3 separate regions of the Homo sapiens genome follow, and regions 1 and 2 are each linked to region 3. The links come from fine-mapping of genetic effects on gene expression. A gene starts in region 3. Each other region holds a variant in brackets. All regions are shown on one strand. Distances are from middle to middle. Region 1 overlaps PSKH1 (protein serine kinase H1). Region 2 overlaps NFATC3 (nuclear factor of activated T cells 3). Region 3 holds the start of DPEP2 (dipeptidase 2).

The links. PIP is the estimated chance that this variant, and not a neighbour inherited with it, causes the effect.
Region 1: its variant is the best candidate, but not a certain one, in a credible set for the expression of DPEP2 in whole blood (INTERVAL, PIP 0.71).
Region 2: its variant is the best candidate, but not a certain one, in a credible set for the expression of DPEP2 in whole blood (INTERVAL, PIP 0.50).

What each region holds. Positions count from the first base shown.
Region 1 is chr16:67,895,044-67,905,898 of GRCh38, forward strand. The region is part of intron 1 of PSKH1 (protein serine kinase H1); the gene reads left to right. Among named protein-coding and RNA genes, the nearest start is that of PSKH1, 7.2 kb to the left of the region's middle. The variant T/C (reference allele first, on the strand shown) is at 5,021.
Region 2 is chr16:68,219,247-68,224,246 of GRCh38, forward strand. All of the region lies in intron 9 of NFATC3 (nuclear factor of activated T cells 3), which reads left to right. Among named protein-coding and RNA genes, the nearest start is that of MIR6773, 12 kb to the right of the region's middle. The variant C/T (reference allele first, on the strand shown) is at 2,814.
Region 3 is chr16:67,993,480-68,004,334 of GRCh38, forward strand. It overlaps DPEP2 (dipeptidase 2), which reads right to left and starts at 6,005. Exons shown (of 11, transcript NM_022355.4): 1 at 5,896-6,005. It also overlaps the pseudogene KARS1P3. RefSeq lists a silencer at 1-96 and an enhancer at 4,428-4,944.

The DNA.
Region 1 (10,855 bases), 98 kb before region 3:
CCCCAGAGTAGCTGGGGTTACAGGCAAGCACCACTATGCCCAGCTAATTTTGTATTTTTAGTAGAGATGGTGTTTCACCGTGTTGGCCAGGCTGGTCTCGAACTCCTGACCTCAGGTGATCCACCTGCCTCGGCCTCCCAAAGTGCTAGGGTTGCAGGCATAAGCCACTATGCCTGGCTGAGATTTTTTTTTTTTTGTTTAAACAGAGACGAGGTCTCGCCATGTTGCCGAGGCTGGTGTCGAACTCCTGGGCTCAAGCAGTCCTCCCACCTTGGCCTCCCGAAGTTTTAGGGTTACAGGCAAGAGCCACCACACCTGACCCACTCTTTGAGATTTTGATGAAGAAGATCTGGGGTAGGAATCTGTATTTTTTTTTTTTTTCTGAGATGGAGTCTTGCTCTGACACCCAGGCTGGAGTGCAGTGGTGCGATCTCGGCTCACTGCAACCTCCGCCTCCCAGGTTCAAGCGATTCTCCTGCCTCAGCCTCCCGAGTAGCTGGGATTACAATCACGCATCACCACGCCCAGCTAATTTTTGTATTCTTAGTAGAGACGGGATTTCATCCTGTTGGCCAGGCTGGTCTTGAACTCTTGACCTCGTGATCCACCCGTCTCAGCCTCCCAAAGTGCTGGGATTACAGGCGTGAGCCACCATGTCTGGCCAGGTATCTGTATTTTGAGAAAACTTCCCAGGTAACTTTACTGTGCTTCCTCATTGAAGATCTTTGTCATTGCCTAAGAAAACTGTTGTCTCCTTTGTCCAGTGAGAAGGCCTTGCCTTGTGGACTCCTGTTGTGGTCTCATGCCTAGAAGCATGGGCTTTGGTGTCAGAAAGACCTGGATTCAGTTTCTGGCTTTTCTGAAATCTTGAGGTTCTCTAAGTCCTAATTTCCTTATTCCAAAATAGGAATCATCGTGCCTACTACATGTGCTTGTAGAGAGGAGTGAGATGGTACATATAAGATCCTTAGCAAAGTTGGCACTCAGTTAATGGAAGCCACTTTTATTACTAATGGCTCCTCTTCCCAGAGTTTCCCTTGTCAAAAGAAGGTCTTGTCTTCTTTTTTCTTTTCTTTTTTTTTTTGAGATGATGTCTCGCTCTGTCGCCAGGCTGGAGTGCAATGGCGTGAGCTCGGCTCACTACAACCTCCGCCTCCCAGGTTCAAGCAATTCTCCTGTCTCAGCCTCCTCAGTAGCTGGGACTACAGATGCCTGCCACCACACCTGGCTAATTTTTGTATTTTTAGTAGAGACGAGGTTTCACCGTATTGCTCAGGCTGGTCTCAAACTCCTGACCTCAGGTGATCCACTCACCTCGGACTCCCAAAGTGCTGGGATTACAAGCATGAGCCACCACAACCGGCTAGAAGGTCTTGTCTTAATAAGCGTGTTTGTTCTTCAGGGTTAGTTGTGTGTAGGAAGCTGCTTTGTATTGTGTGATTTCCTCAAGGTCATTTCTGGTCATCGGGGAAAACTGACAATAGTGTGCTTCTTTTTTTTTTTTTTTTTTTTTTTTGAGACGGAGTTTTGCTCTTGTTGCCCAGGCTGGAGTGCAATGGCTCAATCTTGGCTCACCGCAACCTCTGCCTCCCGGGTTCAAGCGATTCTCCTGCCTCAGCCTCCCGCAATATGGTGCCTCTAAATCAGGGTCGATTCAGTTGGCCATACCCCTAGAAGAGATTTGGAATGCTGATTCACTAGAGGGTGGGTTTGCTGAATAAGCATATTGTCTAGGTCTAATTGTAGTTTTGTGCTTGTTAAGTTGCATAAATGAGCTAGAAAAAGTGCAGCCTTCAGGAAACCTGTTTGCATCTGACACTGAGCTCCAGTTGCACTTCACCTCAGGCATCTGGTTGGCATCTAGAACAGAATGCCCCTACAGAAGTAGGTGCTGGAGTTCTCTATCATAATCACAAGTTCATAGTTAAATGAGTGAGACTTTGGTTTGGCCTTCTGTTTTACTTTGGAAGTGTGAGTGTGTAATATGGGCAACTTAGGTCCTCTTCACAGCTTCTCAGCTGTATGATGTGAATGGGCTATAGGTGTGCCAAAGTATCGACCCTTAAGCTTCAGGATAGCTGAGAACAGCTGTCTCCACTGACTCCCGGGTGTTATACAATAGTATCATTCTATCATTCTCTCTGTGTATCTTGGCATGGGGAAAAATTTTTGAGAAAAAGTACAGCTCTGGAAGAAGGGAAGCAGTTCTGCTTGTTGAGAGCTGGAGAGAGACTTATTTATTTGAACTCCCTTTCCTTCCAGGAATCTTACTCAAGGAGCATTAAGCCGGTTTGTGTTGGCTAGGTCATCACTGAGCTAATTCTTGGTACAGCCCTCTGTTGCCATGGTGTCTGATGTGATGCTAAGGTGGAAACATGTGATGTTTTCATTTGCTGGGAGAAAGTTTTCTTTCCAAGCTGCCAGCCTTGAAATGGCCTCTCAGGGCATCCTAAGAGTCATGTATCAAGGGACTCTTGGTGTGGAGCCATCCAGGCTGTAAGTTCCTTAAGATTAGAGACTATGGCCGCCTTCTTTTTGTTTGTCGCAATCTCTGGCAGAGTTCCTGACCCACAGCAGGAATTCAGTAAATATTTCTGGGTTGAACGTTGGGATTTTGGAAGGAGAACCCCAGGTACATTGCCAGGGTCTGTATTTCTGATGATGGCGAGGTCTCACTCTGTTGCCCAGGCTGGAGTGCAGTGGCATAATCATAGCTCACTGCAACCTTGCCTTCCCGTGCTCAAGTGATTCTCCCACCTCAGCCTCCTGAGTGGCTGGGACTACAGGCACACAGCATCACACCCAGCTAATTTTGTTTTTTTGAGACGGAGTCTTGCTTTGTTGCCCAGGCTGGAGTGTAGTGGCGCCATCTTGGCTCATTGCAAGCTCTGCCTTCCGGGTTCATGCCATTCTCCTGCCTCAGCCTCCCGAGTAGCTGGGACTACAGGTGCACGCTACCACGCCCGGCTAATTTTTTTTGTATTTTTTAGTAGAGACGGGGTTTCACTGTGTTGGCCAGGCTGGTCTTGAACTCTTGACCTCATGATCCACCTGGCTCAGACTCCCAAAGTGCTGGGATTACAGGCGTAAGCCACCGCGCCCAGCCACACCCAGCTAATTTTTTAAACATTTTTTGTAGAGAGGCCAAGACAGGCAGATCACTTGGGCTCAAGAGTTCGAGAACAAGCCTGGGCAACATGGTGAAACCCTGTCTCTACTGAAAATACAAAGATTAGCCAGGCATCCTAGGTACTCGGGGGCTGAGGCACGAGAACCGCTTGAACCTGGGAGGAGGAGGCTGCAGCGAGCCGAGATTGCGCCACTGCGCTCCAGCCTGGGTGACAGAGTGAGACCCTGTCTCAAAAAAAAGAAAAAACTTTTTTTTTTTTGTAGAGACAAGGTCTTGTTATGTTGCCCAGCCTGGTTTCAAACTCTTGGCCTCAAGTGATCCTCCTGCCCTGGCCCCCAGAGTGTTGGGATTATAGTTGTGTGCCACTGCGTCCAGCCTTATTTCTGTAATTATTGAGAAATTACTACCTACTTCATTTTAGTAGACAGTTTTTCTTTCTTTTTCTTTCTTTCTTTTTTTTTTTTTTTGGAGATGGAGTCTCGCTCTGTTGCCCAGGCTGGAGTGCAGTGGCGCGATCTCAGCTCACTGCAACCTCTGCCTTCCGGGTTCAAGCAGTTCCCTGCCTCAGCCTCCTGAGTAGCTGGGATTACAGGCATGTGCCACCACACCCAACTAATTTTTGTATTTTGAGTAGAGACAGGGTTTCACCATCTTGGCCAGGCTGGTCTTGAACTCCTGACCTCGTGATCCGCCTGCCTCAGCCTCCCAAAGTGCTGGGATTACAGGTGTGAGCCGCTGCGCCCAGCCGGTAGACAGTTTTTCAAAACATGTCAGTAGAATATAGAGATATTTGCAGGTGACAGGTTATAAAGCTTTGCTTGGAGAGGGCAAGGTTCCTATGGTTCCTTGCCTGGAAGACATTCACAGACCCTGCCTCTATGGATAGGAAATTGTTTCAGGATTCATCCTTGCTCCCTGCCCCGGGACCCCTAGCTTTCCCCAGAAATGGGGCTAGGTTTGGCAGCTTGTGAACAAACTTACTTTGGCATTCAGATAAGAATCTGTAAAACTCAAACAGACTTCCTTCATTGTTGAGGATATTTACAGGGTGTCCAAAGAGTGTGGCTATGGTTTAACCACCGATCTTGCCTCTTCAACATTTCTAAGGTTCTAGAATTGTTGACTTGCAGCAAATAGAAATCCAAGAGCCAGACCACATTTTTTTTTTTTTTTTTTTTTTGGAGACGAGTCTCGCTCTATGGCCCAGGCTGGAGTGCAGTGGCGCAATCTCGGCTCACTGCAAGCTCCTTCTCCCGGGTTCACGCCATTCTCCTGCCTCAGCCTCCTGAGTAGCTGGGACTACAGGCGCCTGCCACCACACCGGGCTAATTTTTTGTATTTTTAGTAGAGACCGGGTTTCACCATGTTAGCCAGGATGGTCTCAATCTCCTGTCCTCGTGATCGGCCCGCCTTGGCCTCCCAAAATGCCGGGATTACAGGCATGAGCCACTGTGCCAGCCCACATTTCTTTTATTTATTTATTTATTTTTTTGAGATGGAGTCCTGCTCTGTTGCCCAGGCTGGAGTGCAGTGGCGTGATCTCGGCTCACTGCAACCTCTGCCTCTCAGGTTCAAGCGATTTTCCAGCCTCAGCCTCCCAAGTAGCTGGGATTCCAGGTGTCCACCACCACACTTGGCTAATTTTTTTGTATTTTTAGTAGAGATGGGGTTTCACCATGTTGGACAGGTGGTTTCAAACTCATGACCTCAAGTGATCCACCTGCCTCGGCCTCCCAAAGTGCTAGGATTCCAGGCATGAGCCACTGTGCCCTGCCTGTTTTTCTTTTTCTTTCTTTTTATTTTCTTGAGACGGAGTGCTGCCCTGTCGCTTAGGCTGGAGTGCAGTGGCATGATCTCAGCCTACTGCAACCTCTGCTTCCCAGGGTCAAA[T/C]GATTCTCCTGCCTCAGCTTCTGAGTAGCTGGGATTACAGGTGCCCACTACCATGCCCAGGAAATTTTTTTGTATTTTTAGTAGAGATGGGTTTCACCATGTTGGCCAGGCTGATCTTGTACTCCTTACCTCAGGTGATCCACCTGCCTTGGCCTCCCAAAATGCTGTGATTATAGGCGTGAGCCACTGCGCCCGGCCAGACCACATTTCATTTGCTCTGAGTTCAGCAATTTGATAAGTACCAAGGGAGTTCTGGAAACCTGAGAATGGCCCCTTCCCTCAAGGGTCTGACAGCTGTAGTGATCAAAGGCAGTCTGGAGTAGAGCAGTGAGCAGTGTGACTCAGATTATAGTTGGAATGGAGGTTTCTAAAGCAGACCCTTCAGGAAAGATCCTCAGGAAAGCTTTGTGGGTTCACCAACTCAGTGGCATGGGGAAGGATCAAGGCCTTGACTGGATGAGGCCCAGCACTGCTGGAGTCTTTCCGGAGTGATAGAAGGAGCCCCAGATGGGGAACTAGGATATTTGGGTCCAGGATATTTGGTCACCACCGTCTGAGTGGCTTTGGACGAGTCTCTTTACCTCTCCTGGACTGTCATTTCTGTAGATTGTCAGTGAGGACGATAATGCTGAATGCTCATACCCATTGCCACACTCTGTCCAATGTGCGTGCCTTCTTTGAAGAGTGCTTTGGACCAGGCTGGGAGTTTAAGTTTTGGAGGCAGACTCTAGAGAGTTGGGTACTTTCTGCAAGATGACATACTGTGACACTCCTGGGAAGTCTCTTCCTGAAGCTTCCTTACTCATCCTTGCCCATCCCTACACCTACCGTGATCTCTGGGCTAGGGGCACACACAAGAGATGCTGGGAACAGGAAAAGGCTCTGCTCTTCTTCCTAGGAGCTTTACCAGCCACCTCCCGTGTTATAGAGTCTGCATTTTCACCTGACCACAGTGTGGAGAGGGAGTTTAACAGATGTGATGGGACTGTGGAGCAGCTGTGATCACCTGGGGGCTGTTGCCCATTGTCCCCACCTCTCAGCCAGCACCCTCTCTTCTCTACTTTCTTTTTTTTTTCCCCTCTCTTGGCCAATTTGGTCTAATATCCTCCAGTTTCAATCTGTAGTTGGGATGGTGGAGTACCCGCATCAGCCTATCTTTACAGAGTTTCTGATTGGAATCAATGTGAGAGAAACTATGTCTCAGGAAGACAGAAGGAAGATCAGAGGGAAAATCATTGACTCTCTTATTGCCGACTGACTTTATTTTGTTTTCTTTCTTTCTTTAAGAGACGGAGTTTCGCTCTATCGCCCAGGCTGGAGTGCAGTGGCGCGATCTCAGCTCACTGCAACCTCCGCCTCCTGGGTTCAAGCAATTCTCCTGCCTCAGCCTCCTGAGTAGCTGCGACTGCAGGCTCATGCCACCACGCCTGGCTAATTTTTTTTGTATTTTAGTAGAGACGGGGTTTCACCGTGTTGCCCAGGCTGGCTCAAACTCCTGAGCTCAGGCAATCCACCTGCCTTGGCCTCCCAAAGTGCTAGGATTACAGGCGTGAGCCACCATGCCCAGCCTATTTTTTTTTTTTTTTTTGGAGACATGGTCTTGCTCTGTTGCCCAGGCTGGAGTGCCATAGCACAAACACAGCACACTGCAGCCTCGACTTCCCTGGCTCAAGCTATCCTCCACCTCAGCTTCCTGAGTATCTGGGACTACAGGTGCATGCCACCACGCCTGACTAATTTTTTGTAGAGATGGAGGTCTCACTACATTGCCCTGGCTGGTCTCAGACTCCAGGGCTCAAGTAATCCTCCCACCTTGGCCTCCCAGAGTGCTAGGATCACAGTGTAAACCACTGCGCCCTGATGCTGACTTACCTTTGATCCCTGTAGGTTTTATTTGTTTAAAGTGAAAAGTGAGGCCGGGTGCAGTGGCTCACACCTGTAATTCCAACACTTTAGGAGGCGGAGGTGGGCGGATCACTTGAGGCCAGGAGTTTAAGACCAGTCTGGCCAATGTGTTGTAACCCTGTCTCTACTAAAAATACAAAAATTAACCAAGCATGGTGGCACATGCCTGTAGTCCCAGCTACTTGGGAGGCTGAGGCACGAGAATTGTTTGAACCTGGGAAGTGGAGGTTGCAGTGAGCTGAGATCGTGCCACTGCACGCCAACTTAGGTGATAAAGCGAGACTCCATCTCAAAAAAAAAAAAAGAAATAAAAATGAATCGAAAAGTTAGACCTTTTGTTTTTTGTTTTTTTGAGACAGTCTCGATCTCTCACCCAGGCTGGAGTACAGTGGTGCGATCTCGGCTCACTGCAGCCTCCCTGGTTCAAGCGATTCTCCTACCTCAGCCTCCTGAGCAGCTGGGATTACAGGCGCGTGCCATCACGTCCGGGGCTAATTTTTGTATTTTTAGTAGAGACGGGGTTTCACCCATGTTGGTCAGGCTGGTCTCAAACTCTTGACCTTGTGATCCGCCCACCTCAGCCTCCCAAAGTGCTGGGATTACAGGCCTGAGCCACTGCGCCCAGCCAGGCCTTTTCTTTTATAAACCTTAGGTTTTTCCCTGAGGACCAGACTAGGTCCTCATTTAAACAAAAATTTAAACAAAAATACCCAGTACATGTGCCTGTAGATGACTGTTTATTTTGTGAATCTAGGGTTCTGCTTCTTCACCAGGAAGAAGTGACATCTGAGTGGCTGTGCTGGGTTACTCATGCAGTTTGTCTTGCCTCCGAATGGTGGTAGATGTTGTTACTGAGTGGTCGTGGGCATCGGGGTGAGGGACCTGTGTTCTGCCTCAGGAATACCAGCCCAAGAGGAGCTTCAGTCCTTCACTGCATGAGGTGTTGTGTTTTCCCTGAAAGAAGAAATAAGTCTGCAAAATTCCACAGTCCGTAGTTCTATCCTGTGGCCTCTGCGAAAAGGAACCTTGGTTCTAAATGCCTTTGTTTAACATTATTTCCTAGTTGCCATGTGGAACTTCCTGTGCATTTGGGTGAGAACAGCTGCAAATCCTGAAGAGCCTTGTGGAGGAATCTTTTCCTCTTATGTGAAGAAAAATAAACAATATTTTTTTTTGGTTTGGTTTGGTTTTGCTTTGTTTTTCAGACAGGATTTCTGTCTCCCAGGCTGGAATATAGTGGTACCATCACCGCTCACTGCAACCTCAACCTCTTGGACTGAAGCAGATCCTCCCACCCTAGCCTCCTAAGTAGCTGGGATCACAGGCACATGCCACCATGTCTGACTCAATTTAAAAAATGTTTGGCAGAGATAGGGTCTTTCTGTGTTGCCCAGGCTGGTCTTGAACTCCTGGACTCAAGTAGTCCTCACGCCTTGGCCTCCCAAAGTGCTGGGATTACAGGCATGAGCCACTATGCCCCATAGATAAACCTCATTTTTTCCTCTCTCTCTCTTTTTGAGATGGAGTCTTGCTCTTTTGCCCAGGCTGGAGTGCAGTGGCACAGTCTCAGCTCACTGCAACCTCCGCCTCCCAGGTTTAAGCGATTCTCCTGTCTCAGCCTCCCCAGACATCAGATTCTGTATCTAGTAACCCACAGTAAATGTCACATGGATGGTCTACATGCACCCCACACATCCAAAACTGAACTCTTTCCACTGCTTCCCAAATCTGTGCTTCTTGCTACACTCCTGACCACTTGCCGCTGAGCTGTGCAAGGGACGGGGTGCTGTCCTCATTCTTCCTTCCACCCAACATGGAAGTTCTGCTGCTGATAGCTCTCGATTCCACTCCACTGCTTGGGGCACTACACTCTTTTTTTTTTTTTTTTTTTTCCTTTTTGAAACAGGGTCTTTCTCTGTCACCCAGGCTGGAGTGTAGTGGTGTGATTATCGCTCACTGCAGCCTTGATCTCTTGGGCTCAAGCAGTCCTCCTGCCTTGGCCTCCAAAGTAACTGGGACTACAGGTGCATACCATCATACCCAGCTGATTTTTTTTTTTTTTTTTGAGACGGAGTCTTGCTCTGTTGCCCAGGCTGGAATGCAGTGGCATGATCTTGGCTCACTGCAACCTATGCCTCCCAGGTTCAAACAATTCTCCTGCCTCAGCCTCCAGATTAGCTGAGATTACAGGCGCCTGCCACAATGCCTGGCTAATTTTTGTATTTGTATTTGTATTTTTTATATATTTTTTGAGACTGAGTCTCACTCTGTCACCCAGGCTGGAGTGCAGTGGCGCGATCTTGGTGGCTCGCTGCAACCTCTGCCTCCTGGGTCCAAGTAATTCTGCCTCAGCCTCCTGAGTAGCTGGGATTACAGGCATGCGCCACCACGCCCGACTAATATTTTTGTATTTTTTTGGTAGAGATGGGGTTTTACCATATTGGCCAGACTGGTCTCGAACTCCTGACCTTGTGATCCGCCCACCTCGGCCTCCCATAGTGCTGGGATTACAGGCATGAGCCACCGCGCCCCGCCTAATTTTTGTATTTTTAGTAGAGACAGGGTTTCTCCATGTTGGTCAGGCTGGTCTCAAACTCCCTACCTCAGGTGATTCGCCTGCCTCAGCCTCCCAAAGTGCTAGGATTACAGGCGTGAGCTGCCGTGCCTGGCCTACCCAGCTAATTTTTTAATCTTGTAGGGACAGGGTCTCACTGTGTTGTCCAGGCTAGTCTCAAACTCCTGCACTCAAGCTATCCCCCCACCTCAGCCTCCCAAAGAGCTGGGATTACTCCCGGTGCTGGGATGGCCACACCTGGCCAATGGGACACCACACTCTTACTGGTCCTTTTTTAATTTTTTTTTTTTTTTTTTTTTTTGAGACAAAGTCTCGCTCTGTCGCCCAGGCTAGAGTGCAGTGGCGTGATGTCTGCTCACTGCAACCTCTGCCTCCCGCATTCACGCCATTCTCCTGCCTCAGCCTCCCGAGTAGCTGAGACTACAGGCACCCACCACCACGTCCGGCTAATTTTTTGTATTTTTAGTGGAGACGGGGTTTCACTGTGTTAGCCAGGATGGTCTCGATCTCCTGACCTCATGATCCACCCGCCTCGGCCTCCCAAAGTGCTGGGATTACAGGCATGAGCCACTGTGCCCAGCTCTTACTGGCCCTTTTAATCCACTTTGACCCTCCTTCAGGTCAACCTCATCCTTCTCTCTAAACACAGATCTGAATGCCTCTTTTCTTGTAAACCCTTTCGTAGCTCTCCTTCACTTCCCAGGAAGGTCCTGGTCCTCACTTGTGTTGCTCTCCATAACCACCTTCTGCTGACCTTCTATAACTTCATCTCCACATCCCTGCCTTTGTACCACCAAACTGCCCATTCCTAGATGCAGGATGTTACTCTGGGTTTCTGAGCCTTTGCAGTGTGTTATTCTCTCTCCCTGAAACACCATTCCCACCTTTCCTCATCTGACTCATTCTTGCTTCAAAATTCAGCATAGAGGTTACCTCCTTCAGGAAGGTTTTCCTAACCCCGACTTCACTCTACATTATATACTATTGGTTCTTAAGCTTAACACTTAACCATGTTATACTGAAATTATGTTTTTGGCTGGGCACAGTGGCTCACACCTGTTATCCCAGCACTTTAGGTGGCCAAAGCTGGCGGATCACTTGAGGTCAGGAGTTGGAGACCAGCCTGGCCAACATGAAACCCTTTCTCTCTACTAAAAATACAAAAATCACCCAGGCGAGGTGGCAGGTGCCTGTAATCCCAGCTACTTGGGAGGCTGAGGCATGAGAATCGCTTGAACCCGGGAGGCAGAGGCTGCAGTTAGCTGAGGTCGTGCCAGTGCACTCCAGCCTGGGTGAAGGAGACTCCATCTCAAAAAAAGAAAAACAAAATTATTTGTTTTTATGCTTTTCTCTTT
Region 2 (5,000 bases), 220 kb after region 3:
GTGGCAGGTACCTGTAATCCCAGCTACTTGGGAGGCTGGGGCAGGAGAATTGCTTGAACCCGGGAGGCGGAGGTTGCGGTGAGCTGAGATCATGCCACTGCACTCCAGCCTAGGTGACAGAGCAAGACTCTGTCTCAAAAAAAATAAATAAAAATAAAAAAATAAATTAGCTGGTCTTGGTGGCACATGCCTGTAGTCCCAGCTACTTGGGGCAGGGCTCTGAAGCGGGAGGATCGCTTGAGCCTAGGAGTTCACGGCTGTAGTGAGCTATGATCACACCACTTCACTCCAGCCTGGGTGGCAGACTAAGACACTGTCTCCTAAAATAATAATAGTAATAATAATAATAATAACACCTTCATAAAATTGTTTACCCAGGGGATGAATACCTTTAATCTTCAGGTTCAGGAAAAGAATAACATGACCAAACTTTGGTGAATGTTCATTGCAGCTTCAAGAGGAAATAACATATAAATGGAGTCTAAAAATACCCCGAAATCCTTTACAAAATTGCAAATTAGAAAGGCCCGTTGGGATTTTGTGTATATGGCAGTGTGTATCTACTCCCTTCAAAGAGGGAGCACACTGGGTTACCCTGCCCCTCTCTACCTGGTTGTGAGGTTCCATACTATATACTTGTCAGTTCTAACTTTGAATTCTTAAGCATGGGAAATAGCTCTAAATAAGAGTCCTATTGGTACTCAAGCACCTCATTCTTGTGTGTAGAAATAGCATTCCAGTGGACTGCCAATTTGAACATTTCTTGAATACGAACTTTTTCTCTTACAGCAAACATTATTGATAGCTGTGACTCTACTTTTGTTGTGGTGGCACAGGCAAATTCAGGTGTTGGGGTAGTGGAAGTCACAGATGGTGGCTGCCAAAAGTGTGCCAGATCCTGTGACCTACATAACCTGTTAGCACCCTTATTGAGGACTGTTCACTCTTGTTCTAGGCTTTTAATTCACTTTGCTCTTTAAAGGGAGGAAAATGAGGGCTGGGTGCGGTGACTCACGCCTGTAATCCCAGCATTTTGAGAGGCCGAGGTGGCCAGATCATGTGAGGTCAGGAGTTTGAGACCAACCTGGCCAACATGGCAGAAACCTCGTTTCTACCAAAAATACAAAAATTAGCTGGGTGGGAGGCAGCAGTTGCAGTGAGCCAAGACCACACCACTGCACTCTAGCCTGGGTGACAGAGTAAGACTCTATCTCAAAAAAATTGGGGGGAAGAAAAATGATAAAATTGTACATTAGGGGCATAAACAATTCCTTATACTCTTATCTTAAATTGGTGAAAAAAATAGGAAACCACCTCACATACTTAGTGGACTAGAGTTTATTTTTCCTTTTTTTTTTTTTTAAGAGACAAATTGTCCCGGCCGGGCAGGGTGGCTCACGCCTGTAATCCCGGCACTTTGGGAGGTCGAGGCAGGTGGATCACGAGGTCAGGAGATCGACACCATCCTGGCTAACACGGTGAAACCCCGTCTCTACTAAAAAAAAAAATACAAAAAAAAAAAAATAGCCAGGCATTGTGGCGGGCGCCTATAGTCCCAGCTACTCGGGAGGCTGAGACAAGAGAATGGCGTGAACTTGGGAGGCGGAGCTTGCAGTGAGCTGAGATTGCGCCACCGCACTCCAGCCTGGGAGACAGAGGGAGACTCTGTCTCAGAAAAAAAAAAAAAATTGTCACTTTGTTTGTTGGCCAGGCTCTTCTTGAACTCCTGGCCTCAAACAATCTTCCTGCCTTGGCTTCCCCTAGTGTTGGGATAACAGGCATGAGCCATGGCACCTGGCCTGGATTACAGTTTAAATAAATTAGCAAATTCATGCATATATCCATTCAAGATGACTTGAAAAATTAAATTGCAAGCATTAGTATTTTTAACAACTTAAAAATTGTGCTTATCAAGATTGCTAATGACTTACATTTACATTACATCATAGATTTGTTTACCAGTAATAATTTTGACTTGCTTCAGTTGAGACCTACGTTTTGGCCAGTCCCAGCAGGAAGATATCTGAGGAATCTAGAGGTGAGAGCCTGAACCCAGAGCCCCCAGCCCGAGGGAGAAGTGAGGGAGAAGGAAAGCAGAGGACTTGCATGATTAACACTCGGCTCAAGTTATTGCTAAAGGTCTGTGAAAGCACTTTGTTGCAGTTCTGACTCCCTAGCCTAAAATTTATATTCAGTGCTCACCTGTAGCAATTACTTGAGCATGATTTTTGTTGTCATTGTTCCAAGTCCCCAAATTGTTTTAAAGATTCAGTTGGCAAGTAATTTTATTTAGTACTCAATATATGTAAGCACTAGGGATTCAGGGGAAAACAAGATAGAGAAAGTCTGCCCCGTTGGAACTTAAATCTCCTGACTGCTGGTGAATTCATAAATAAGTGAATCCTGTAGTATAATGTATAGTTGAGTATAGTCCGCTTGAGCACTACTTTGTGGAAAATCTTCTGACTTTAACATAGTCTTAAAATCCTAAACTGTCAGGAACTTTCCAGGTTCCTTCAGCTAAGTAAGGTGAGGCACACCAGGCAAAGGAACAGCAGAGCTTTGGCAAGGGGGAGCAGAAATAACACAGCATTGAGCAGGCTTCCATTATAATCAATACCACATATCTACTTTAGAAAATGATGGTTTCATCCTTATATAAGTGTACTTGGTAAGTGGATGGACAGTGCCAGATATGGACCCTCATCGTCAGGAAAATAGAAGCATTGACTTCTTATAAGATATAGAAGAACAACACCTCGGCTGGGTGCAGTGGGTCACGCCTGTAATCCTAGTACTTTAGGAGGCTGAGG[C/T]AGGAGGATCACTTGAGTCCAGGAGTTTGAGACTAGCTTGGGCAACATGGTGAGACCTCATCTCTGCAGAAAGAAAAAAAAAATCCAAAAATTAGAAAGGCATAGGCGTAGTAGCACATGCCTGTAGGCCCAGCTACTCAGGAGGCTTAGGTGGGAAGATCAAGGCTGCAGTGAGCCGTGATTGTGCCACCTGCATTCCAGCCTGGGCAACAGAGTGAGACCCCATTGCCAAAAAAAAAAAAAAAAAAAAAAAAAAAAAAAAAAAAATAGAAAAAAGAAAAAAAAGAGAGAAAACACGTCATGTGGTTTTTGATGATAAAACACCATTTAAAATCCGTTTGTAGTTTTAAAACTTGAACAGTGAAATACAAATTGTTAAAAGTGTTTTTCATAGCAGCCTGGAACATCTTTGAAATTATTGCCTTTGGAAGTGATAAATGATAAGAAAAGATGATTTGATTGTGAGCCAGGTGCTTGCTTATATATTTGGCTTTTTGCCACTGCTGTAACGCCTGCCTAAAATACACACTGTGAAAATCAAATAACATGCATTAGTCTTAACATACTCTGGTCCCCTTCCTACCTACCACCTAATGAACTTTCACTGTGCTTGTTCTAAATAGCTTCCAAGTGATTGTATTGAATTAGGGTCCATTTATTTAGTCATCAGGAATGGGTGTTTCCTCAGTGGCAAGGTTCTTGCCTTTTGGGAGTTCATAGCCTATTTGGGAGACATAATGATGATGCCTGATGATAATCTAATATGAAGAGGAGGCATGTTAGAAGTCACGCACAGAGATTTGTGGGCCATCCTTGTGCTCCCTCTTAGCACAAGACTAGCTCGTAGAACCCCCAGAACCTGCACAGAAAACACTCTTCCTTATATTTTTTGTGACTTGAAATAACAGGTGCCAAGGGCTGCCTTGCGTTCTTATGCCCACTTTATATTCCCTCTCTATGTACTGTATAAGAGGTATTTCTCTTCTCCATTGTACTGATGGGGAAACTGAAGAGAAAAATATATTCTTATGCAAAGCATCCTCACAACTTTTCATTTACAAAGAAACTATTCCAGTGAGTTATTTTTAGAAAGTCAGGAGTAAGTTTAGTTTATATTCCATTATTCTTTGCAGCATCCATTATGAATGGTTAATAAATCCTAGCCTGGCAAATTTACTTAAATATCATCTGACAGGTCAGGCACAATGGCTCATGCCTGTAATCCCAGCACTGTGGGAGGATTGCTTGAGGCCAGGAGTTAGAGATCAGCTTTGGCAACATAGCAAGACCCTATCTCTACAAAAAAAATTTTAAAATCAGCCAGGTGTGGTAGTGTGTGCCTATAGTCCCAGTTATTAGGTTGGTGCAGAAGTAATCACGGTTCTTGCCATTAGAAGTAATGCCAAAAACCACAATTACTTTTATACCAACCAAATACTTTGGAGGCTAAGGTGGGAGAATGGCTTGAGCCCAGGAGTTCAAGTTTGAACCATGATTGCACCACTGCACTCCGGTCTGGGTAACAGAGCGAGACCCTGTCTCTTAAAAAACAAAACACCAGGCGTGGTGGCTCACACCTGTAATCCCAGCACTTTGGGAGGCTGAGGCAGGTGGATCATGAGGTCAGGAGTTCAAGACCAGCCTGGCCAAGATGGTGAAACCCTGTCTCTACTAAAAATACAAAAATTAGCCGGGCACGATGGCGGGCACCTGTAATCCTAGCTACTTGGGAGGCTGAGGCAGGAGAACCACTTGAACCCGGGAGACGGAGGTTGCAGTGAGCCAAGATTGTGCCGCTGCACTCTAGCCTCGGTGACAGAGCAAGACTCCATCTCAAAAAAAAAAAAAAAAAAAAATCTGACAAAGTACTTTATTAATCTATACCTTAAAAAATTGCTTATCACTGGCCAGGCGCGGGGGCTCATGCCTGTAATCCCAGCACTTCAGGAGGCCGAGGTGGGTGGATCATGAGGACAGGAGATCGAGACCGTCCTGGCTAACATGGTGAAACCCCGTCTCTACTAAAAATACAAAAAATTAGCCGGACACGGTGGCATGCACCAGTTTAAAAAAAAAAAAAAAAAAAAGCTTATCACTTAGTAGTTATTAGCTCACCAGTATTGATTAATCTTCACTGTTTTGCAGAGTCCTTTGGCTTCAAGTCCCTACTTCTTTACTATTCTATGT
Region 3 (10,855 bases):
GGCGCCCACTCGCGGCCTGTCTTAGGGCCCTCCACCCTCCCTTTTACTCCTCCCACTGTCCCCAGGGGGCCGACCCAGGTGGCTCCTCTGCTGCCCCTAGGCTCTCTCTCTAAGAGAGAGGGCCTGGGGTGCTTCCCCCAAACAGTGGCCCTCTGCCCTGCCCTGGGAGATCTGCAGACCACGTCATGTCCCCAACCGCCTGCAACGTGTCCCGGCCACACCCAGGGCCACATGTGTCCCTGTGACCACAGTGCTCTGGGCTCTGGATTTCCTGGTGCTGGGTTGTGTGGGTGGGTGTGGGGGAGAAGATAGGCTCTGGAAATGAGGGGTTAACCCTGTGGACTGGATTCAGGAAGGGGCCCCCTGGCCCTGACCTTCTCTCTCCCGTAACTTAGGCCCTCAAGCCTATACTCTGGGGAATCTCCCAGCTACTAGGACCTGTCAGGAGCACTCCTCCGCCCCCCGCCCCGACCGCACATTCTCCAATCAGCCTTAGGAAAGAGCTCCTTCCTAAGGAGCTGCCACACCTCCCCAGGACCCCAGTGGAGGGATGAGAGCGCAGCAAGCATCTGGCCACTGCCAGGGAACATTCACTCAACAGAGCAGGAACCCACACAGCCATCTGCATGGAAGGAAATGAAGTCTTGTCTAGGGCAGCAGAGTCCCCGGCCGCAGCACCTTCCTCCTAGAGCTTCTGGCTGATCTGCTGGCCAGGATACCTCCTACCTCCTTGAGGAAGCCCCGGCCTCGTCCAGGTCAGGAGTAAGGGGCCTGAGGAAAGCCCTGCCACCTGGGTTCTGCAGCCACACTCCTCTTATCTTGTGGCTCCTGTGGCTTGAGCTCTCACAGAAACCTCCAGGGCTGAGTCCCTTCCTTGACGACAGGCCCCACCCCATTCCCGGCCTGGGGCCCTCAACCTAGATGCCTCCTCCAGGAAGGACCCCCAACCACACAAGCACACAAGCTCACAATCACACAGGCACAGGGGATGTGCCCGCTCACAGAAGCCCCACGACCTGAGATCTTCCGGGACTGTGGCCAAACCCCTTCGTCCTCAGAGACCTTTGCCTCCTCCTGCCCCTCAGGCTCTCAAGACTCTGCTCTGAACCTTGGCACCCCTGGAACCGCTTCATTTTTTGGAGCCTCCCCCACGTGGCAGGGCTGATCAGTGCATGGGTAGTGTGACCTAAGCCTGACGACGACTAGAGATTCAAGAAGGCCTCCTAAAAAGAAAATGAACCAACTCTTCCAAAGGGACTGGAGGTCCCAAGCTACCCAGGAGGGGAAGTGATCCCAGCTTTGATGTATTTTAGGGACTGCACACTTGATGTTGCCCAGTGTCTGCTGTCCAGGAGGAAGGCAGATCGATGGCCGAGTGCTCGAGGTGGGTTAACTGTCACGTCTACTGCTGCCGAAGGGGGTCTTTTTTTGTTTGTTTTGAGACAGAGTCTCACTTTGTTGCCCAGGCTAGAGGGTAGTGGCACAATCTTGGCTCACTGCAATCTCCACCTCCTGGGTTCAAGCGATTCTTGTGCCTTAACTTCCCGAGTAGCTGGGACTACAGGCATGCGCCACCACGCCCGGCTAAATTTTGTTGTTTAGTAGAGATGGGGTTTTGCCATGTTGCCCAGGCTGGTCTCGAACTCCTGGTCTCAAGCAATCTGCCTGCCTCAGCCTCCCAAAATGCTGGGATTACTGGAGTGAGCTACCGCACCTGGGCTTTTTTTTTATTTTTTATTTATTTTTTTAATTAAAGACTGTCTTGCCTTCTTGCCCAGGCTGGTCTCAAACTTCTGGCTTCAAGTGATGATCTCACCTTGGCCTCCCAAAGTGCTGGGAGTATAGATGTGAGCCACTGTGCCCAGCCCTGCTGGAGGGTTCTATAGGGAGGCCCACTGCAGATGGTGAGTCCTCTTGGGCTCTGCTTCAGAGAACAGTAGGGCGTGTCCCAGATCTGGGTGGTTTGGGTACCCCAACACAGGCTTCCCTCCTTCTCTCCATCATCCACTGCTGGTCAGCAGCTCCCCACACCCACTGGAATAGTGAGAGGGAGGAGAAGCTCTTGGATTTGCTGGTCTCCAGGTCAAAGATGTGGTTTTGGGGATAAACAGTTTATTCTGAGAGCCCCAAGAGGTAAGGGGCATAAAGAATGAGGAACTGAACCTGATCATTATGTGTTATATGTATTGAAACATCACTATGGGTGGGGCGCAGTGACTCACACCCGTGATCCCAGCACTTTGGGAGGCCGAGGTGGGTGGATCATCTGAGGTCAGGAGTTCGAGACCAGCTTGGCCAACATGGGGAAACCCCATCTCTATTAAAAATACAAACATTAGCCGGGCTTGGTGGTGCGCGCCTGTAGTCCCAAATACCTGGGAGGCTGAGTTGGGAGAATCGTTTCAACCCAGGAGGCAGAGGTTGCAGTGAGCCGAGATTGGGCCACTGAACTTCAGCCTGGATGACAGAGCGAGACCCTGTCTCCCCCCGCCAAACAACAACAACAACAACAACAACAACAACAAAAATCACTATGTACCCCATGAATATGTGCAAATTATTATTATTATTGTTTTTGAGATAAGGTCTTGCTCTGTCACCCAGGCTGGACTGCAGTGGTGCAGTCTCAGCTCACTGCAGCCTTAACCTCTCAGGTTCAATCAATCCTCCCACTTCAGCCTCCCGAGTCTGGGACTACAGGTACTCGCCACCACACTCGGCTATTTTTTTTTTTTTTTTTAGAGACAGGGTCTCACTATATTGCCCAGGCTGGTCAATTATTATTTGTCAGTTTGAAAAATGTAAAAATAAGGAAGGGGTAGGTAGGAATAAATAAATAACAGCTGACAGAGTAGGTGAGGAGAATTCAACTTTTTGAATTTTTTTTCTTTTTTTTTTGAGACAAAGTTTTGCTCCTGTTGCCCAGGCTGGAGGGCAATGATGTGATCTTGGCGGGCAATGATGTGATCTTGGCTCACTGCAACCTCCACCTCCTGGGTTCAAGTGATTCTCCTGCCTCAGCCTCCCAAGTCACTGGAATTACAGGCATGTGCCACCACACCTGGCTAATTTTGTATTTTTTAGTAGAGATGGGGTTTCTCCATTTTGTTCAGGCTGGTCTTGAACTCCTGACCTCAGGTAATCCACCCACCACGGCCTCCCAAAGCGCTGGGATTATAGGTGTGAGCGACCGCACTCGGCCAACTTTTTGCATTTTTTTTTAAGCTTCTCTCCAGAGCCCGAATGTCTGACCTCCTGGGACTTGGGGTACCTGCTAGCTCAGCAGAGGCAGGCTGAGTTGAGCCAGTAAAAGTGAGCACTGTCTCTGTAGGAGATAAGCCAGACAACACAATTTTCCATGATATGCAACTTCAGTCCTCAAATGTGGCCTTGAGGGGACCATACAAAGCGAATCACAGACACACCCACACTTGTAGTTGCAGTGAGCATTATGATAACACCATAGCATTCCAGCCTGGGTGACAGGGCAAGACCCTGTCTGTAAAAAAATAGATAATGATATTATTATTATTATTATTATTATTATTATTATTATTATTATTATTTTCTGAGACAGAGTTTCATTCTTGTTGCCCAGGCTGGAGTGCAATGGTGCAATCTTGGCTCACTGCAATCTCTGCCTCCTGGGTTCAAGTGATTCTCCTGCCTCAGCCTCCCGAGTAGCTGAGATTACGGGCGCATGCCACCACTCCCGGCTAATTTTTGTATTTTTAGTAGAGATGGGGTTTTGCCATGTTGGCCAGGCTGGTCTCGAACTCCTGACCTCAGGTGATCCGCCTGCCTTGACCTCCCAAAGTGCTGGGATTACAGGCATGAGCCACCCCCGACCCTTGGCCAAATTTTTTATTTTTATATTTATTTGTTTATTTATTTTGAGATGGAATCTCGCTCTGTCGCCCAGGCTGGAGTGCAGTGGCACAATCTCGGCTCACTGCAAGCTCCGCCTCCCGGGTTCAGGCCATTCTCCTGCCGCAGCCTCCCGAGTAGCTGGGACTATAGGTGCCCGCCAACACGCCCGGCTAATTTTTTGTATTTTTAGTAGAGACGGGGTTTCACCGTGTTAGCCAGGATGGTCTTGATCTCCCGACCTCGTGATCCACTCACCTTGGCCTCCCAAAGTGCTAGGATTACAGGCATGAGCCACCGCGCCCAGCTCACATTTTTTAAAATGGAAGAAATAGGTATGGCTTTTCTGTAGGGAATGGGCTGGAGGCCAGGAGATCAGGAGGGGTAAGGAATGAAGGGGCCTGTAAGGGGGAGAAGCAGTGGGAACAGGAAGGAGACATTCCTGGGACATGTTTGGAAGTTGAACCCAGGATTTGGAGATGCTTTGAAGCAGGGTTGGTGGGAGACAGTAAGGAGGAATCAGCGGTGACACTTAAGGTCGGCTCTGGAGTCAGGCCCTGAGTTTCCCCGCCTCTGCCTTGTTTCCACTCTGCCCACTGCCAGCATCTAGCTAACTTAGACTGTAGCCTCTGACCCCAAATTATCCCTGTGCTCAGGTCTGTGCCACTGATATTGGCAGCTCCTAATGAGAGGTGACAGCGTGCTGCCAGTCCTCACAGCCCTCGCTCGCTCTCGGGGCCTCCTCTGCCTGGGCTCCCACTTTGGCGGCACTTGAAGAGCTCTTCAGCCCACCGCTGCACTGTAGGAGCCCCTTTCTGGGCTGGCCAAGGCCAGAGCCAGCTCCCTCAGCTTGCAGGGAGGTGTGGAGGGAGAGGCGCGAGTGGGAACCGGGGCTGCGAGCGGCGCTTGCGGGCCAGCTGGAGTTTCGGGTGGGCGTGGGCTTGGCGGGCCCGCACTCGGAGCGGCCCGCGGGCCCTGCTGGCCCCGGGCAATGAGGGGCTTGGCACCCGGGCCAGTGGCTGCGGAGGATGTACTGGGTCCCCCAGCAGTGCCAGCTCACAGGCGCTGCGCTCGACTTCTCACCGGGCCTTAGCTGCCTTCCCGGGGGGGCAGGGCTCGGGACCTGCAGCCCTCCATGCCTGAGCCTCCCACCCCCTCCATGGGCTCCTGTGCGGCCGGAGCCTCCCCGGTGAGCGCCGCCCCCTGCTCCACAGCGCCCAGTCCCATCGACCACCACAGGGCTGAGGAGTGCGGGCGCATGGCGCAGGACTGGCAGGCAGCTCCACCTGCATCCCTGGTGCGGGATCCACTGGGTGAAGCCAGTTGTGCTCCTGAGTCTGGTGGGGACGTGGACAATCTTTACGTCTAGCTCAGGATTGTAAATACACCAGTCGGCACTCAGTATCTAGCTCAAGGTTTGTAAACACACCAATCAGCACCCTGTGTCTAGCTCAGAGTTTGTGAATGCACCAACTGACACTCTGTATCTAGCTGCTCTGGTGGGGCCTTGGAGAACCTTTGTGTCGACACTCTGTATTTAGCTAATCTGGTGGCGACGTGGAGAACCTTTGTGTCTAGCTCAGGGATTGTAAACGCACCAATCAGCACCCTGTCAAAACAGACCACTCGGCTCTACCAATCAGCAGGATGTGGGTGGGGCCAGATAAGAGAATAAAAGCAGGCTGCCTGAGCCCGCAGTGGCTACCTGTTCTGGTCCCCTTCCACACTGTGGAAGCTTTGTTCTTTTGCTCTTTGCAGTAAATCTTGCTACTGTTCACTCTTTGGGTCCATGCTGCTTTTATGAGCTTTAACACTCACCGCGAAGGTCTGCAGCTTCACTCCTGAAGCCAGCGAGACCACAAGCCCACTGGGAGGAACAAACGACTCCAGACGCACTGCCTTAAAAGCTGTAACACTCACCACGAAGGTCTGCAGCTTCACTCCTGAGCCAACAAGACCACAAACCCACCAGAAGGAAGAAACTCCAAACATCCAAACATCAAAAGAAACAAACTCCAGACGCGCTACCTTAAGAGCTGTAACACTCACTGCGAGGGTCTGCAGCTTCATTCTAGAACTCAGTGAGACCAAGAACCCACCAATTCCGGACACACTAAGACAAGATTTCACTAGTGTGTGCTGTTTCCCCTGCAAGGGGGAGGGCACAGAGATGGCTTTGGGTGAGGTTAGGGGGAGGATAGGCCTCCTGGTTGGCTAACACTTGTTTACTTCTGGGGCATGAGTGTTCATGTGAGCCCACGATGCCTGGCCTGTTCCTCTTTTAACAAAGTCTGGTAGGACATGGTGGCTCATGCCTGTAATCCCAGTAATTTGAAGGTCGAGGTGAGAGGATCTCTTGAAGCCGGAGGTTTGAGACCAGTCTAGGCAACATAATGAGAACTCTAAGAAAAAGGAAAAAAAAAAGTGGTGCATGCCTGTGGTTCCAGGTACTTACGAGGCTGAGGTGGGAGGTTCGCCTGAGCCCAGGAGTTTAAGGTTGCAGTGAGAGACGATGGCACCACTGCTCCCTAGCCTGGGCGACAGAGTGAGACCCCATCTCTAACAAAACGAAAACAAGATCCAATGCATCCTCCTGCCTGAAGTTCTTCCGTGGCTTCTCATTGCAGAAATCTACCGAATTTCTTTCTTTGGCTTTCAACTCATGGAGAGTCTGCTCTCACCAGCCTCTCCAGTCTCAGCAAATAGCACAAACTTTCCTGTCCTCCAAAATCTGGCCACCTCAGTGATGCTACGTCCCCCCATAGAGCCTTGGCACAACCTCAGCCTCCAATTGGTAGGGCTGTTGAGGCAAGGCCAGGATAGGAAATCTTGCTACCAGGAAGGAGTAGGTGGGTGAACAGCTTTTCCCTCTACTTCCTCTTCTATGCAGTGTTTGCATAAATCAAGACCTGCAGAGGAGGCAGCAGTAGAAACAGTTTGCTCCAAGGACCAAACTTATTCTGGTGTGCAGCTCACTCGCCCCTACTCATCTCCAGTGTATTTCAAGAGTATGCAGGGAAGGAAAAAGTCAGGCTGAGTTATAGCTGCACAGGCTGCCTCCCATGCTCAGAGCGCAGAGGTGGGGTGCAGCTGGGGCTTACTCAGTATCCAGCAGTGCCCAGATGATGATCATCTGCATCCAAGCCCCTCTGGTCCTGGAGACTCATGCTTCCCTTTGATGTCGCCCTGGATCTGCTCCCATGATGTCTGATACAGACAATTCCCAAGAAACAATAGTCTTCCAAGCCAGAAAGCAGCCTGGCCACTGTAGACAAACATCCTCCAATCACCAAGCTGAAGCCACCCTTCCTGAAACGTCAAATAGCTAACATAACATTTTTCTTCCACAAAAGGAAGTCAATGTTTATGTTTCTAGGAGAAGTGCAATAACCCCAAATGCATCTTTATCTCCTGAATGCATCTAGAACCTTCTGCTCAAGCCTTACCAACCAACCCCTACCCCGCCAGCCTCTCTGTCCAACATTCCTGGGGTGCTTTTTTTTTTTTTTTTTGGAGTGCGAGGGCACGATCTCGGCTCACTGCAACCTCCACCTTCCAGGTTCAAGCGATTCTCCTGCCTCAGCCTCCCAAGTACGTGGGATTACAGGCATGCACCACCAGGCTGGCTAATTTTTGTATTTTTTTTAGTAGAGATGGGGTTTCACCATGTTGATGAGGCTGGATTGTCTCGAACTCCTGACCTCGGGTGATCCACCAGCCTTGGCCTCTGAAAGTGCTGGGATTACAGGCATGAGCCACTGCGCCCGGCCTTTTTTCTTTTCTTTTTTTTTTTTTTTTTGAGACAGGATCTTGCTCTGTTGCCCAGGCTGGAGTGCAGTGGTGCCACTTTGGCTCACTGCAACCTCCGCCTCCCAGGTTCAAGCAATTCTCCAACCTCAGCCTCCCTAGTAGCTGGGGCTACAGGCATGCACCACCATGTCCAGCAAATTTTTGTATTTTTAGTAGAGACGGGATTTCACTACATTGGCCTTGAACTCCCGGCCTCAGGTGATCCACCCGCCTTGGACTCCCAAAGTGCTGGGATTACAGGCCTGAGCCACTGTGCCTGGCCCTGGGTTGCTTTCTGATGGAGACGATTGATGACTTGGGTCCCATGTGTACCATTGAGTTCCTCTTGCAGCTGGGTTCTGCCTGATTTCAGACAGTACAGAGGATCTGGGACAGAAGGCTGCATGCTATCCCATGTCCTTGAGGTAGTGCCATCAGCCGAGGGTGGGGAGGAGGCAGGAGGGCCCTGGGGTGCAGGAGCTGGATCCAGCAAGGCCATTAAAAGTATCTCAGGGGACAAGAGATGGTGGCTCATGCCTGTAATCCTAGCACTTTGGGAGGCCAAGGCATGAGGATTGCTTGAGGCCAGGAGTTCAAGACCAGCCTGGGAAACATGGTGAGACCCCTTCTCTACAAAAAAATTTTTTAAAAAGTAGCTGGTCATGGTGGCACATGTCTGTAGTCTCAGCTACTCAGGAGGCTGAGGTGGGAGAATTGCTTGAGCCCAGAAGTTAGAGGCCACAGTGAGCTATGGTCGCTCCACTGCATTCCAGCCTCTGGGAAAGAGCAAGACCCTGTCTTAAAAATAAAATACCTTTTCCGAAACATTTTTTGTAAGATTAAAAAAAGAGAAAAGAAGGAAGGAAGGAAGGAATAAAGAAAAGAAAAGAAAAAAATTTTAAAAGGTTGGGTATGGTGGCTCACGCCTGTAATCCTAGCACTTTGGGAGACCAAGGCAGGTGAATTGCTTGAGCTCAGGAGTTCGAGAGCAGCCTGGGCAACATGATGAAGCCCCGTCTTTATAAAAAATACAAAAATTAGCCAGGTGTGGCAGTGCACACCTGTAATCCCAGCTGCTTGGGAGGCTGAAGCAGGAGAATCGCTTGAACCCGGGAGGCGGAGGTTGCAGTGAGCTGAGATCGTGCCACTGCACTCCAGCCTGGGCAACAAGAGCGAAACTCTGTCTCAAAAAAAAAAAATTTCCTTTTAGAGACAGGGTCTCACTGTGTTGTTCACTGAAACTTCAAACTCCTGGGCTCAGGCAATCCTCCTGCCTCAGCCTTCCGAGTTGCTGGTGGAATCTGTGAGAAACATGGTGACTCGGTCAATAACCATGCCCCAGGCAGTTGTGGGGGACAGCCTGTATTCCATGGCGGCAACAAAGTTTTCATCTACGGACAGGGCCTCATCATCACCTGCGGCCTTAGCCTGTTCTTCAAAAAGCTGCCACTGCTGCATAGGATCATTTAGATCAGTGTAGGCATTGCTTATCGCTTTCTTTATGACAAATAGCTTAAAGCGCTGGGTCAGACCTTTTGAGTAGTGCCATTTAGCCAAAGGGCTCATTATCTGGGGGTGATCACAGATGAATGTAGAATTGTTGCAAATCACTTCCAGGAACTCCCCCAACAAGCTTGTCAAGGAGCCTGGCTGTGGTCCTAGGTGGAGGGCACGCAATAGCATTTGCACGCAGATATTATCAAGAATTTTGCCAATTGCTTCAGTTTCAAATAGGTTATTTTCTGGCAGCTTCACCCCCAGGGCTTTCTCAAGCTCTTCTATCATGCTGATTCTCCGGAAGGGTAGGGTGAAGTCAATATTGCAGGCTTATCCCTCTGGGACATCTGGGTAGTAGGTGACCTTGTAACTACCTGTATTATGCTTCACCATCCCTGGAACCATCTTCCCCGTGATTTCCGTGAGATTGTGATAGTCTAGGCCATGTAGAACTCAGGGGTGCTGAACTCAGGATTTTACGTCAAATCAATTCCTTCATTCCAGAACTGGAATGCAATTTCATAAACCTGGTCAATGCCACCAACCACTAGCATCTTATGGTAGAGTTCTAGAGTAGTTCATGTGCAGCTTGTTGTGATAAGTGATGAAAGGCTTGGTCATAGCTCCCCTGGGATGACGTTCATTCATGGGAGTTTCAAGCTCTAGGAATCCCAGCTCATCCAAGAAACTTTTTTTTTTTTTTTGAGATGGAGTTTTCTTGTTGCTCAGGCTGGAGTATAGTGGTGCAATCTTGGCTTACTGCAACCTCCACCTCCTGGGTTCAAGTAATTCTGCTTCAGCCTCCTGAGTAGCTAGGATTATAGGCACCTGCCACCACGCCCATCTAATTTTTGTATTTTTAGTAGAGGTGGGGTTTTACCATGTCGTCCAGACTGGTCTCGAACTCCTGACCTCAGGCAATCTGCCTGCCTTGGCCTCCCAAAGTGCTGGGATTACAGGCGTGAGCCACTGCACCTGGCCTAAGAAACTTATTATACATGTGATGATCTTACAGCAGATGATAAATTTCTGCCTCATTCATTCAGGATCAAGTCCAAGTATCTCTGACCATACCTTATTTCCTTGTCTTTGAGGCCAAAGTGAAGATGAGGTAACATATACAAGCAAGGCCACAGCAGTGTGATCTCATAGGGAATGAAGCTCAGCTCATCCTTCTTGGTTTTTCCCAGGATTCCTCTGAATTCCAATTATGTTTCCCCAACGCAGTTTGTTATTAATATGAATAAATTATTCTTCCTGAAATTATAATTCCTGAAATTGGCCATGACTTGCAACTTGACCCCCTCTGCTCAAAGATCATAGAAGTTCATGGCTGGGCACTGTGTCTCACGCCTATAATCCCAGCACTTTGGGAGGCCAAGGCAGGCAGGCAGATCACCTGAGGTTGGGAGTTCGAGATCAGCCTGACCAACATGGAGAAACCTCACCTCTACTAAAAATACAAAATTAGCCGGGCGTGGTGGCGCACGCCTGTAATCCCAGCTACTAGGGAGGCTGAGGCAGGAGAATTGCTTAAACCTAGGGAGGAGGAGGTTGCAGTGAGCTGAGATTGTGCCATTGCATTCCAGCCTGGGCAACAATAGTGAAATTCCATCTCAAAAAAAAAAAAAAAAAGATCATAGAAGTTCAGCTTTCCTCCAAAAGCTTTTTTGGCATGGATCCTATCTGTCACGTTTAAGGT